Homo sapiens: one gene and its partner. The main gene of each other region encodes a partner of the protein of the gene in region 2 in a complex. Each region holds a gene or a part of one and is shown on either strand. Other genes may lie near its edges.

Region 1 (7,736 bases), on a different chromosome or scaffold from region 2:
AGCTGTGCAAGACCAGACTTATTGGCTGGGTGCCGTAGCTCACGCCTGTAATCCCAACACTTTGGGAAACTGAGGCAGGTGGATCACCTGAGGTCAGGAGTTCGAGACCAGCCTGGCCAACATAGTGAAACCCAGTCTCTACTAAAAATACAAATATTAGCTGGGTGTGGTGGTAGGTGCCTGTGATCCCAGCTACTAGGGAGGCTGAGGCAGGAGAATCGCTGGAACCCAGGAGGCAGAGGCAGAGGTGAGCCGAGATCATGCTACTGCACTCCAGCCCGGGTGACAGAATGAGACTCCATCTCAAAAAAAAAAAAAAAAAAAAAGACCACGCTTCTGTCTGTAAGATCGTTTTGCATATGAGGTCCTTTCACAGACCATTTCCCTCCAGCACCTACCAGTGCCCAGGCCCGTGAAGGAAGCAGGGAGCTAGAACAGAGCAGGTAGGCTGGGTGCGATGGCTCATGCCTGTAATCCCAGCACTTTGGGAGGCTAAGGTGGGAGGATCACTTGAACCCAGGCATTCAAGAACAGCCTGGGCAACACAGTGAGACCCCATCACTACAAAGTTTTAAAATGAGCCAAGCACAGTGGCCTGCACCTGTAGTCCCACCTACAGGCGAGGCAGAGGTGGAAGGATCACTTGAGCCCGAGAGTTGGAGGCTGCAGTGAGCTATGATCTTGCCGCTGCACTCCAGCATAGGTGACAGAGCAAGACCCTGTCAAAAAAAAACAAAAACAAACAAACAAAAAACAAAAACCAGAACAGACTGGGTGCAGTGTAATCCCGGCACTCTGGGAGGCCGAGCAGGCAGATTACTTGAATCCAGGAGTTTGAGACCAGCCTGGCCAACATAGTGAAACCCCGTCTGTACTAAAAGTACAAAAAATTAGCCGGGCGTGGTGGCAGGTGTATGTAATCCCAACTACTCAGGAGGCTGAAGCAGGAGAATTGCTTGAACCCGGGAGGCAGAGTTTGCAGTGAGCCGAGATCGCCGCACCGCTCTCCAGCCTGGGTGACCAAGCAAGACCCCATCTAAAAAAAAAAAATGAGAAAAAAAGAAAGAAAAAGAACAGCAGGTAAGTCCTGTCCAGGTGCATAGTCTGGGGCTGGAGGGAAACAGATGCAGGTTTGTTCCCATTGTGTGAGGAGGAGCCAGTCAGGGGGTCCCAGCAAGGAAGCCAGGCTTTGGCCTCTGGGTTCAAATCCAGCTTCACCTCTGTGAGCCTCTGTCTTCTTACCGGTTACCGTGGGAAGGAAACGTGGTCCTGAATCCAGTGCACTTGGCATTGCTGGATGGAACAAGGGAGGGTGGCGGTTGCTCGCACAGGCACAGGTCTGGGCGTCTGATGGCCCTAGCTTCAGTCCTAGTCCGGCCACAGAGGGAGGCAGGGTGAGCTCCTGACACGGACGCCTGCAGAATCTCTCAGAACCGGTCTCTGGAGCATGTGCTACCCTCCTTGTCCACGAGGTGGCAGCAGCGGGCCTAGCCGCTCGTCTCCGCGGCCACCTCTTTCTGGCCAGGCCGGGACACCGCGGCCAAGGCTAAAAGAGAAACCTAGCCCCAAGCTGAGAGTGGGACCCCAGAGCCAGGGTCCCAGGCCTAGAGGCGTCCAGGACTGGGGGCCAAGGTTCTGAAATGCCAGACATATAGGAGGTGGGGGACCGTCATGCTCTTCCCTGGTGTCTCCAGCAGGTGGGATAAACACCGGGTTCAATGGGACCAGGCGCGGTGGCCTCACGCCTGTAATCCCTGCACTTTGGGAGGCTGAGGATGGAGGATCGCTTAAGGCCAGGAGTTCAAGACCAGCCTGGGCAACATAGTGAGACCTTGTCTCTACAAAAAAAAAAAAATACAAAAATTAGCTGGGCGTGGTGGCATGCACCTGGGGTTCCAGCTAACTCTGGAGGCTGAGGTGGGAGGATCGTTTGAGCCTGGGAGGCAGAGGTTGCAGTGAGCTGAGATTGCACCACTGCACTCCAGCCTGAGTGACCGGGTGAGACCCCATCTCAAAAAAAATTTTAAAAAAGGGGAAAGAACAGCAGGTAACCTCTATCCAGGTGCACAGTCTGGGGCTGAAGGGAAACTGTTGCAGGCTTGTTCCCATTGTGTGAGGAGGAGCCAGTCAGGGGGTCCCAGTGAGGAAGCCAGGCTTTGGGGTCTGGGTTCAAATTCAGCTTCACCTCTGGACCGAGTGAGACCCTGTCTCAAAAAAAAAAAAAAAAAGCAGGCGAGGAATAGAGACAGAGGGTCAGACAGCAAGAGTCCCAGAGGATGAGACAGATGGACACAGAGACAAAGGATGCGGGATGTAGGTGGGCAGGGCAGGGACAGAGAGACCCCTGCAGAGGCCACGAGGGCAGGGCAGATGGAACAAGTGACCAAAGACAGGTGGAGGAGTGGACGGCACGAGTGTCAGAGGCTGCAGACAGCGAGGGCGCTAAAGGGTGGGAGAAGGAAGGAGAGCCCTGCTCCACCCCAGCCTTGGGGGTCTCATCACCCCACTGCACAGATGAGGCTCCTGGCATCGGGGTGCAGAGAACGGCTCATAGCACAGGCAGAGGGACCACAGCCCACTCCTGCCCAGCGGTGCTCCTGTGCCCAGCCCTGGGGTGGACACCGTGGCTGCCATCCACACAGACATGAGGACCGAGTGAGATAGTTCCCTGTGGAGGCCAGGATGCTCTGGCACCTGAGGTCAATAAAGCCACATCCCACAAGTGGGTGGACTGCCTTGTGCTATTGACCATTAAACAGCTGCCCAAGGCCATTGAGCTATTAATTAAATAATAATTATTATTATTTTAAATTTTTTTGTTGTGTTTTTTGGGTTTTTTTGTTTTTGTTTTGTTTTTTTGAGATGGAGTCTCGCTCTGTTGTCCAGGCTGTAGTGCAGTGGCACGATCTTGGCTCACTGCAAACTCCGCCTTCTGGGCTCAAGTGATTCTCCTGCCTCAGCCTCCCAAGTAGCTGGGATTACAGGCACCCACCATCACACCCGGCAAATTTTTGTATTTTTAGTAGAGATGGGGTTTCACCATTTTGGCCAGGCTGGTCTCAAACTCCCGACCTAAATAAGGTGATCCACCTGCCTTGGCCTCCCAAAGTGCTGGGATTACAGATGTGAGCCACCACGCCCGGCCTATTTATTGTTTTTACAGACAGACAGGGTCTTGCTGTCCCCCAGGCTGGAGTGCAGTGGCAGAGTCACGGCTCACTGCAGCCTCCAACTCTTGGGCTCAAGAAATCCTCCCGTTTTGGCCTCCCAAAACACTGGGACTACAGGTGTGTGCCACCACACCCAGCTAATTAAAAAAATTTTTTTAGAGATGGGGTCTCGTTCTGTTGTCCAGGCTGGTCTCAAATTCCTGTTCTCAAGCGATCCTCCTGCCTCAGCCTCCAAAAATGTTAGGATTGCAGGTGCAAGCCACTGCACCTGGCCTCTATCTCCCTGTTTCTTGCTCTCTCCCCATCTGTGTGTGTCTCTGACAGTCTGTGGCTCTCTGTATCTTTCTGTGTGTCTCTCTGTGTGTGTCTTGGTCCATCTCATGCCCAGCTAATTTTTAAATTTTTTGTAGAGATGGGGTTTCACCATGTTGGCCAGGCTGGTCTTGAACTCCAGACCTCAGGTGATTCTCCTGCTTCAGCCTCCCAAAGTGTTGGGATTACAGGCATGAGCCACCGTGCCTGGCCCATGGGTATGAATTTCTGCCTGTGTGTGTCTTCTTCTTTTTTTTTTTTTTTTTGAGATGAAGTCTTGCTCTGTCACCCAGGCTGGAGTGCAGTGGCGCTATCTTGGCTCACTGCAACCTCCACCTCCTGGGTTCAAGCAATTCTCCTGCCTCAGCCTCCCGAGTAGCTGGGATTACAGGCACCCGCCACCACACCCAGATAATTTTTGTATTTTTGGTAGATATGGGGTTTCACCATGTTGGTCAGGCTGGTTTTGAACCCCTGACTTCATGACCTGCCTGCCTTGGCCTCCCAAAGTGCTGGGATTACAGGCATGAGCCACCGCGCCCGGCCCATGGGTGTGAATTTCTGCCTGTGTGTGTCTTTTTAGCGTATGTGTGTCTCCATATCTGCCATCTGCAGGAGCACCTCAGTTTCATTATCTTGCTCCCTGTCTATTGGAGTGTATCTCTCTTCCTCTCTGTGTGACTTTTTGTGTTTATGTGTGTGTTTAGTGTGTGTCCATATTTTCCTGTTCTCTTGTGTCTCTCTGCTGTGTCTCTCTCTTTTTCTTTCTGTTTTTTGAGACGGAGTCTCCCTCTGTCACCCAGGCTGGAGTGCAGTGGTGCGATCTCGGCTCACTGCAACCTCTGCTTCTGAGGTTCAAACGATTCTCCTGCCTCAGCCTCCCGAGTAGCTGGAATTACAGACACATGCCACCATGCCCAGCTAATTTTGTATTTTTAATAGAGACGGGGTTTCACCATGTTGGCCAGGCTGGTCTTAAACTCTTGACCTTACGTGATCCACCCGCCTCGGCCTCCCAAAGTTTTTGGATTACAGGTGTGAGCCACCTCGCCCGGTCCTATCTCTCTTTCTTCTCTTTCTCCCTCTCACTTTGTTTCTCTTCTCTCTCTCTCTCCCGCCTCCTTCCCCCGTCTCCCCTCCCTTCCCCCCACCGCCCTCTTCATAGCTGAGCCTGTCCGGCAGTGCGGCGGATGTACGGATGATTCAGTGGCTGGCAGGAAGCCCGCCCTGCCCGCCCGCCAGTGTCAGTGGTGTTGGCATCAGCTTGGGCAGGTGTGCGGGCTCAGGATGGGGCGGCCGTGGTGAGGAACCCTGGACTCTCAGGTAAGCCTTTCCCAGGGGTGCCTCAGTCCTCAGGCTGTCCCCCATCCCCCAGGAGCTCCTGGCCCCACTGGGTGGGGTGGGAAGAGGCCTGGATGCCTGGCGCCCCCTCCCGCAGCCCCACTCTCACCCTGGCACCAGGCTCTGTGGCACTTCAGGGGTCAGTTTGTTTCTGGGCTTCTGGCCACTCTCTTGCCCTCGCCTTCCCCTGTCCAGCCTGTGTAGCCTTGGGACATCCCAGGGTGGTCCCATCATTGCCAGAGACTGGTGAAGTAAGTGGCCGAGAGCCAAAACAGTGGCTGCCCTGGCCTGGGAGCCTCGGTTTCCTCATCCGTGAAATGGGACTGTAACCCCCTACACAGGTCAGGGGAAAACGGTGGGATTACAGGCCAGGGCCCAGGTCTTGCCCCAGGTCAGGTGAAGAACCCCCACTGCCTCCCTGCCCAGCCCCCTACCTGGCCCTCAACTCTGTCCCTGGGACCAGGGCTGCTCAGGCCCCTCCTGCACCCGCCCGCCTCCCTCTCTCCCTCCCAGCTAGGCTCATTTGAAGCCCAGAGTTATTTGGAAAAAGCAACAGGACCAGCCGGGCACGGTGGCTCAACCTGTAATCCCAGCATTTGGGGAGGCCAAGGCGGGAGGATCATTTGAAGTCAGGAGCTGGAGACCAGCCTGAGCAACATAGTGAGACTCCCATCTCTTTAAAAAATAAAAATAAAAAAATATAATTAAAAACTAAATGAAAAAACCAACAGACCCCAGAGCAGAGTCCAGTGGATAAAGCCATCCAGGGCTTCAAGCCAGGCTGCCCCCTCCCCAACCCCAGTGTCCCCAACCACAGCTCAGCTCGGAGAAGGCTGGGAGAACCGGCAGGGTGGTCTCGAGCGTCCTTCCAGGCGGGATTCAGACACTGTAGCTCCTCCAGCCCAGCCCCGAGAACTTCCCCGAAGCCAGCTCTTGGCAATCGTTGTTCATATGAAAACTGCCCACTTCCCTTTAGTGCTATTTTGGCCTCTGCAGAACCGTGGTCTGTGGCAGCCCCCACTCCCCACCCCGCCCAGCCCTGCCGGCCCCTGGGGGCCTCAGAGGGTCCACCCTCCGCTCCCTCCACCTCAGCCCACCTGCTTTCAGAACCTGGATGGGAGAGTGAAAGTGAGAGCGAGACAGAGACACAAAGGGAGACAGAGACAGAGAGAGAGCACAGAATTTTTTTAAACGGAGTCTCACTCTGTTGTCCAGGCTGGAGTGCAGTGGCGTGATCTCGGCTCACTGCAACCTCCACCTCCCAGGTTCAAGCAGTTCTCCTGCCTTACCCTTCCAAGTAGCTGGGGACTACAGGCACGTGCTACCACACCTGGCTAATTTTTTATTTTTTATTTATTTTTTATTTTTTGGAGACAGTCTTGCTCTGTCTCCCAGGCTGGGAGTGCAGTGGTGCAATCTTGGCTCACTGCAAGCTCCACCTCCCGGGTACATGCCATTCTCCTGCCTCAGCCTCCCGAGTAGCTGAGACTAGAGGCGCCTGCCACCACGACCGGCTAATTTTTTGTATTTTTAGTAGAGACGGGGTTTCGCCATGTTAGCCAGGATGGTCTCAATCTCCTGACTTTGTGATCTGCCTGCCTCGGCCTCCCAAAGTGCTGGGATTACAGGTGTGAGCCACCGTGCCTGGCCTAATTTTTTATTTTTAGTAGAGACAGGGTTTCACCATGTTGGCCAGGCTGGTCTTGAACTCCTGACCTCAGATGATTTGCCCGCCTCAGCCTCCCAAAGTGTTGGGATTACAGGTGTGAACTACCGCACCCGGCCAACAGCGCAGGATGTATTCAGTCTGGGGGCAGACACATGACTGTTTGTTAAATTTCATTTTTTGTTTTTAGAGATGGGGTCTTGCTCTGTCACCCAGGCTGGAGTTCAGTGGTGTGATCTTGGCTCACTGCAGCTTCCAACTCCTGGGCTCAAGCAATTCTCTTGCCTCAGTGTCCCAAGTAGCTGGAACCACAGGCATGTGCCACTGCGCCTGCCTAATTTTTTCATTTTTTTGTAGAGACAGGGCCTTGTTACATCGTCCATGCTGGTCTCGAACTCCTGGCCTCAAGCGATCCTCCTGTCTCGGCCTCCCAGTGTTGAGATTACAGGCGTCAGCCACCACGCCCAGCCTGATCCCATTTTATTTATTCATTTATTTAATTTATTATTATTATTATTATTATTTTGAGATGGAGTCTCACTCTGTCTCCCATGCTGGAGTGCACTGGCGTGATCTCAGCTCACTGCAACTCACTGCCTCCTGAGTTCAAGTGATTCTCATGCCTCAGCCTCCCAAGTAGCTGGAATTACAGGCTTGCACCTCCACGCCTGGCTAATTTTTGTATTTCTAGTAGAAACAGGGTTTCACCATGTTGGCCAAGCTGGTCTCAAACTCAAGTGATCCTCCTGTCTCAGCCTCCCAAAGTATTGGGATTACAGGTGTGAGTCCCTGTACCCAGCCCGACCTCATTTTATAGATGAGAAAACTGAGGCGGGGGGCTCTCAGGCAGAGGCTAGATTTGGTCCCATGAGCCCTCCTGCAAGACAAGTTGCTCCAACCTCACAAGCCTGAGATGAACTTGGGCCATGCTGGAGGGGTTGGGGGTACACCCCGGGTTGGGGGCACTGAGGCAAGGAGAGTTTCGAGGAGGGAGAAGGGCAGTGCCCAGGCGGGCCATGGGGAAGAGAGAGCAGAGCTTTCCTCGGACAACCTCCCGGGGTGACGTGGGTCGTGCCAGTCACACGGCTCAGAAATTCACTTGTTCCCACTGACTCACTTGGCTTTTGGGGAGAGGCCTGGTGGCTTCTCTGTGATGCGCCTCTTACAGAGGCTCAGGGCCGCATGGAGATTCCCTGTCATCTTACCGCAGGGATTTGGGAAGTCCAGAGAGGTCCTGAGACTTGTCC
Region 2 (7,071 bases):
AGAAAATGTGGCTTAACTCTATCAATAGTAATAAAAAATTTACTCATAATAAAGATTGTATTGGATTCATACCAGCCATTGATAAGCTATAAGTATTTCACACAATGGTTAAAATTAAAGTTGTATTCTTCAGGTATGAGTTGCAAAAATAAATGTATTCAATTAAAATATCTTAGAAATATACTACCGCAAATTATAATGCATATGGCAATAAATCATCAGTAAGTATTAAGCAAAACAAAGGTCAGAAATGTGGAAGTACTGGAGCAGGGTTGGTTGATTTGATTGATTCAGTACTAATAAATGGATAGAAAAGTATTTTAGAGATCCTCAATTATTGTAAAAAATGTGGATTTTTACTCAGATGACCTTATAACATAGAGGAGTCAATACAGCACTGAGATTTTGGTTTATATGAGTTAAATCTTATACTTCACCCAAAGTTGTTAAGTTATATTTGCCATAAAACCTGATTTGTAACAATCTTCTGTGACACAGATGCTACTGATGGCTGTAATGTTGGGCTCCAATAGTTTAATAGTAACATGATTGTTCTACAAGGCAACACAAGAATCATATGTCAACCAATGGTCACATATATCAGAAAAAAGGAAACTCCTGTCACAATGGAAGCTAATAATTCTCCAAACTAGAATCATATTTTTTAGCTAGAAGCTATTCAGTAAATATATGATATTGCAATCTACTTATAACCAACCCCTACTTCAACACAATCTTTCCTTTGGAAAAACTGTTTCTTGTTGATACTCAATGTATACAAATAACTACAACAGGACAAATACTATAAGAAAGAAATCGTGCAAAGTGCTTTGGGAAAGCAGAAATGAGAGTAATAACTTTTTTTTTTGTGGGGGTGAAGAAAGCTTCAGGAAATTAGGAGATGTTCAGAATTAAGGATAGATTCAGCCTGGGTCTTGAAGGACGAGTAGGACATTACCATATAAACAAAGAGAAGGAGGGGCATCTAAGCAGAGTACAGTGACTGAAAAGGTATGAGGAGACAGGGAAGATCATAGGGTATTCAGGCAACTGAGACTAAATGAAATTACCAGAGCAAAGGGTATTTTGAGGAGTTATTATTTAAAAGGGGCCCTGCTATAAAGGACCAACGTGCCATGCTTGAGCCCATTGTTGGTATTCAATAAGTATTTAGTGTTCAATAAAAAATATTTAAAAAGGAATCTCAAAAGCAATGAGAATCCTTTAAAGTCTTTTCAGTAGGGGAATATCTTGATTAGGTTGAATATTAAATGAATCAAAGAAGAAAAAGAGTGGAAACTAGGAGACTACTTAAAAGCCTTTTGCAGCTCTTCAAACAATAAGTCATGTAGTCCATCGCCTCCTTGTATAGGTGAGGAAGCTATGATACCAGAGAAGTCAAGTGGTTTGTTCAAGGTCTCAAGAGCTGGTTAGTAGCAAAATTAGTTTATGCCCTATGTCCAAACATATTTTCTACTATATTTCCTTACCTACAAATTTATTCTTCACTGCCTAAGACTTGAGGTATCTGTAAGAGGATTTCCATTGTAATGGTGCAGTGGTGCAATGACACTAGTCATTGCAGACAGGACTAACTTGTTAATATTGTTTAAGCAAGATTTTTGCATTTTGTAGTCTTTTTCAGGGAGATATAATTTGATTCTTGGTATATTAAGAATGAATTTGACGAACAAATCAGCAGACCAAAGTAACTTACTGTGTCTGATTAGCTGTTTTTAAATTGTTGCTTATATTTTAAAGGCAAAAAAAAAACTAAGTGCTTATTTAACAACAACAAAAAATCCCCTTTACATTTTTTTAGAGGTATTATTTTCTCTCACCTATGAAACTTTCTGACCATAAAGTCAGTGCGTAATCACTGATGATTCCCAGCATTCTTTCTTTATCCTTGCTTCTTTTCATTTTTCAATTCTTAATCCCTCCTTTCACTTCCCCCCTGTATTACAACAACTAACAGCTGCCAAGAAAGTGGATTAGGTCATATATTCAATCAGGAGGTTTTCCTGTTATTCAAGTCACTTTCTTAGTATACCGAAACTAAAAAATAGTTATGGTTTTTGCCTCAAAAAATTCAGTTGGACTTATATTTTATTATTTGAAGGTTGGGTAGCAAGAAGCAGGTCTAAACTTACAAAAGCAAAGCAGTCATTTTGGATCTTCAACTCCCTATTTCTGTCTTGAGCTGTTTTCATTTTGATAATACATCTGAACACTCTTCTCTAACTTACTGATAATCAGTCCGTATTGTTCTACCTCACTTTGTAGACAATTTGTCATCCCATATCTACAGCTGCAGGATCAGTGGGACCCATACTGGTGGAGAAAACCATGCAGTCTCTCCATTAGGAAAGGAGAATCAGACTGAAGACTCCTGACTTGCTTTGATTTCTAATAATAGGCTGGTCTCACTGGGCCCAGGCTGTTCTAAATCTAGAGTAGTTCTGAAATACTGAGTGTGAAATAGGCAATGGTAGAAATTCTTAGGACCCCTGTAAGACAAATCAAAATTCCTTCTAGTATTCTTTTCTCCCATCATTTCCTGCACTGTGCTACGCCAAATCCAATCTCTTAAGGACCATTTCCTACATGCAACCATTGAGTGCACTTTGGCCCCAGTATAGCTTTATAAATCTCACTAGATAACTGTGGGAAGTCCATCCATGAATCATAGTATCAATGGTCTGCAGCTCAGAAAGCACAAAAGAACAAAATAAAAGTTTGAAAACTTACAGCTTTCTCTGCCAGATATTTTTTTGCCAAATATCTTAGACTCCTTTGTGTTGCTGTAACAGAATGCCACAGACTGGTAATTTATAATGAACAGAAATGTATTTCGCTCATGGTTCTGGAGTCTGGAAGTCAAAGAACATGGCCAGCATCTGATGAGGACCTTCATGCAGCATCATTCCATGGCAGAAGATAGAAGAGCAAGAGAGGATGATAGCATGTGAGAAAGTGCCAAACTTGATTTTATAAAAAACCCACTTCCAGGCCAGGTGCAATGGCTCACACATGTAATCCCAGCACTTTGGGAGGCCACAGCAGGAGAATCGCTTGAGCCCAAGAGTTTGAGACCAACCTGGGCAACATAGGGAGATACTGTCTATACAAAAAATGAAAAAGTTAGCTAGGAGTGGTGGCGCGTGCCTTGTAGTCCCAGCTACTTAGGAGGCTGATGTGTGAGGATTGTTTGAGCCTGAGAGGTCAAGGCTGCAGTGAGCTGTGATTGCACCAGTGTATTCCAGCCTGGGCAACAGAGCAAGACCCTGCCTCTGAAAAAAGAGAAAGAAACCCACTCCCACAGCATTAATTAATTCATTCATTCATGAGGGCAGAGGCCTCATGACTTAATCACCTTCTAAAAGTCCCATTTCTAAACACTGTTGCATTGGGGATTAAGTTTCTAACACATAAGTTTTGGAGGACACATTCAAAACATAGCACTAAATATTCATTGGGAACTCATGTACTTGGAATATCTACTGGCAAAAAAAAAAAAAAAAGAAAGAAAGAAAAAAGAAAAAAATTCCATATTCCGTGTTCCCATAATTGTGGTTTATATTTAGTGAAGCATCAAATGAGCATGAGATACAACTATTTTTTTTATTTACACAAAACTTGACCCTAAAATATTTAACCAACAGAAGTAGTACTAATAAAATTATTCTATGAAGTAATTTTTAATGAAGCTGAGTTTATTCAAGTCATGTCTTCTGCAAATAAAAATGGACACCAATAAACAAAAACAAAGATAGAAAGAATAACTGTGTTCTTGATATCTCCCCTAAAGTTCACAATCTCTACACCTGTTTCTTTCATCTTCTGGTGATGTTAATCTTCTGTTTATTTTGCGCTTTAAATCTAAGCACATGTGGATTACCCAGAGATTGCCCTCTGAAAGTCAGTCTACACCTGTTCTTTCTTACCTCACAAAAAGTAATGGAAAAAAAAGTGTGTGTGTGTGTGTGTGCGTCTGTGTGTGTGTGTGTCCTGTTGGTGGTAGTGTTGGTGGTTAAAAAGCAATTTGGGACTTCCTCTTTGAACAGTTGCCTTTTCCTCTCACAGAAGGAAGATTTCATTTTGTTTGAGACGAGAAACCAAACCACACACCAAAGAGAGGGGTATGATGGCTAAGAAGCCCCCAAAACCAGCCCCTCGCAGGATCTTCCAGGAAAGGTTAAAGATTACTGCTCTACCTTTGTACTTTGAAGGTTTTTTATTAATCAAGCGGTCAGGATACCGGGTGAGTCTATAGATGATAATGTTAAACCTAAGACTTCTGTTTTAATTTAATATTTATTTCATGGTGATGTGATGTGTTAAGACCTCCTTGTTTCTGTTGAAATTAAATCATCTTCTCTTCTTTGAGCTCAGAAAAATGATTCCAATTTTTCATAATTTAAATACAATGTCTGGCTTAAACCTGTATGTATACACATATATAATATGTATAATAACAGAGGTTGTAATATTAAGGCACTAATATAAAAAAGTCAATAAGCTAAATTTCCAAAGAATTTATTTAAATATCACAAAAGATTTTGGCTTGGGAGATAAAATGTTTCTTGTATTTTCTCCACAATTTATTGCTATGCTTCAATGATGACATGTACCATTAAGATAAAATGATATCATGATTAAAATTAAACCTGCTCCTGTTCTGAGTCATTTGAAGTTTATAATGATCAAATTATTAAAAATGGCTTTTGTAAAAATTGTTAAAATGACAAAGTTCATACTGTTTAACATTATATATAGTTATGTGTTCTAAAATACTATTCAAGATAGTGACTTTTAATTTTTGGGGTACTACTGTGGGTATTAAGTACACTAAGCTACATAAATACCTTTGCTCTAAGAAAATCCATGAAGCATTCTGTATTTTTAAATGTAATAATTAAAACTTATAGTTAGTTAAAATCATTACTTTTAAAACAGTAATTATGGATGACTTGAAATTAATTAGAGAAATAAGCCCAAAATTGCCTGTTATTAAATAAAAAAATCATTAAGTTAGGTCAAATTTTATGAAATTGTATACTGACTAAAACTAGAAAAATTTTAAGGTTTTCAGAAATTCCATCAGAAATGTTTAATGATGCTAAAATATATTTTCTGAGGATTTATGAATACTTGTGGAAAAATTATATATATGAAAAATCTATAATAGCATATTCACATTTCTTACATATATAATCAGATCATTTACTATTTGAGAGTAAAGACATGGTAATTTGTATTCTGTTATGGATGTTAAACATGCATAAATAATTACCTTTCAGTTATATTAGAATTTTTTAGATTGATCCTATATGCTTTTAATGTAAATTCAATCTTGTCACCACAGGTAAGCCACATAGTCACACTTTGCCAGGAAAGGGAAGTTGAGAAAAAAAAATTCTAATTAGTAATTTAAATCAGGTTGTTCATTGAATGTTTTCCAAGGTATTTATAATAACTGTTTATGATAGCAGTTTTTTTTAAATGCTTAAAGAAGACATGTCATTGGTATGGTTAGCAGAAAGAATAAGAATTTTAGAGTGTCCTTTATCTGATGGTTTTGCCACTTATAGCTTGTGATCTTGTGCAAGTTACTCAATCTCCTTGAGACTGTTTCAACTATAAGATAGAGAGTATACTACTTGCTACTTGCCTCCTAAGGTACATTCTAGGATTCAGTAGGTGTTCAATCAATTTATTCACTCAACATTTATTGTGTGCCTCCTATGCACCAAGCATCACTCATTTCTGGAGAATATGGAAAAAAACACAAAGATTTTATTTTCAAGAGGCTTAATATAGTAGGAATGATGTCTTCCTTACCAAATTTCTACTCTTTACCTTCTCTTAGAAAGCATTCTTTGAAGCAGAATGAATACCTATAGGCATAAATATTTCCAATGAAATTAACTTGTGTTTCTATTTGAATTTATAGTAAAGTATCTTTGTGTGTGTGGGTGTGTGTCTGTGTGTGTGTGTGTGTGTGTGACAGTGTCTCCTCTGTTGCCCAAGCTGGAGTGCAATGGTGCAATCACTAGTCATGCAGCCTTGACATCCCCGGCTCCGGTGATTCTCCTGCCTCAGCCTCCTGAGTAGCTGGGACTACAAGCGCATACCACACCCGGCTAACGTTTGTATTGTTTATAGAGACAGGGTTTCATCACGTTGTTCAGGTTGGTCTCAAACTCCTGGGCTCAAGCAACCTGCCCACCTTGGCCTCCCAATGTGCTAGAATTACAGGCATGGGCCTCTGAGTTAGACCACTAAGTACCTTTTACTTGTATGTCAGGGAGAAGAGAGCAAGAGGATGACAATAATACCTACTTATGTGGTGGTTTCAGGGATTAAAGGGATAGCATATGTAAAACACCTGGCTCACACTAAAGGTTAGATTCATTCTCTTACCCTTTCATCACTTATCATACTCTTATTCAGGTACTAAAATTAGTTTGAGGTCTGCAAGTAATATGACTCCAAGGAGAGTGAGCATGGTGATAATTAGAGTACTTGAAAATAGAAGCTATGAGAAAAATCTAAGCAAAATAAGTGGAATTTCCAAGCAATTGGCAGCAAAGTGCCAGGGAATCTTTGAACAGAAGGTGAGCCAAAGGTATATAGCCAAGTAATCTTTGGAGCTGATTGGCTAGAGGAAGGTGAGAGGCTCTGCAGAATGTAAAGTTGGGTCTCTGCCAAAGTCATTCAGAACATTTAAACTAGAAAAAATATAACTGAAGAGTAACCTGGTCTATAAAGGCATGAAATGCTGAGAGGTGCTTCTTAGCTATTTTTTGTGGGGCACTTTTAAGTATTTAAAGAGCTTTTCCCCAGGAAAATGTAACAACGTATACCATTTTGCATGCAATTCTAGAAGGTTTCTAAATCTGAGGTCAAGAACCCATGAAAAACACATAATCTTTATGGAAAAGATAATGTGGGAAGATTTATTTAAGCCACAGCACTAGGATTCTGAATTAACCAGGAAGATGTGTTTATTATCAAAGCTGTTAAATGCCACAGTGGAATACCATTGGCATCGCAGTTCTTACAAAT

What was found.
Region 1: the proteins of STAP1 (region 2) and LAT2 are in contact, whole or in part, in a crystal structure (PDB 3MAZ), measured with the Homo sapiens proteins. Residues at the interface, in NP_001304698.1 of Homo sapiens: Arg184, Arg203, Pro204, Gly205, Ser206, Ser212, Ile215, Gln217, Ile219, Lys225, His226, Tyr227, Lys228, Glu239, Leu240, Glu241, Tyr255, Phe256, Glu259, Thr260, Arg261, Asn263, Leu264; in NP_054865.2 of Homo sapiens: Asn134, Ser135, Tyr136, Glu137, Asn138, Val139, Leu140, Ile141, Lys143.

The regions. Positions count from the first base shown.
Region 1 is NC_000007.14:74,205,284-74,213,019, forward strand, and holds the start of LAT2 (linker for activation of T-cells family member 2), read left to right. Parts: upstream 1-4,722; 5' UTR 4,723-4,805; intron 4,806-7,736. UniProt on the Homo sapiens protein: Involved in FCER1 (high affinity immunoglobulin epsilon receptor)-mediated signaling in mast cells.
Region 2 is NC_000004.12:67,554,666-67,561,736, forward strand, and holds the start of STAP1 (signal-transducing adaptor protein 1), read left to right. Parts: upstream 1-4,061; 5' UTR 4,062-4,144; coding exon 4,145-4,264; intron 4,265-7,071. UniProt on the Homo sapiens protein: In BCR signaling, appears to function as a docking protein acting downstream of TEC and participates in a positive feedback loop by increasing the activity of TEC.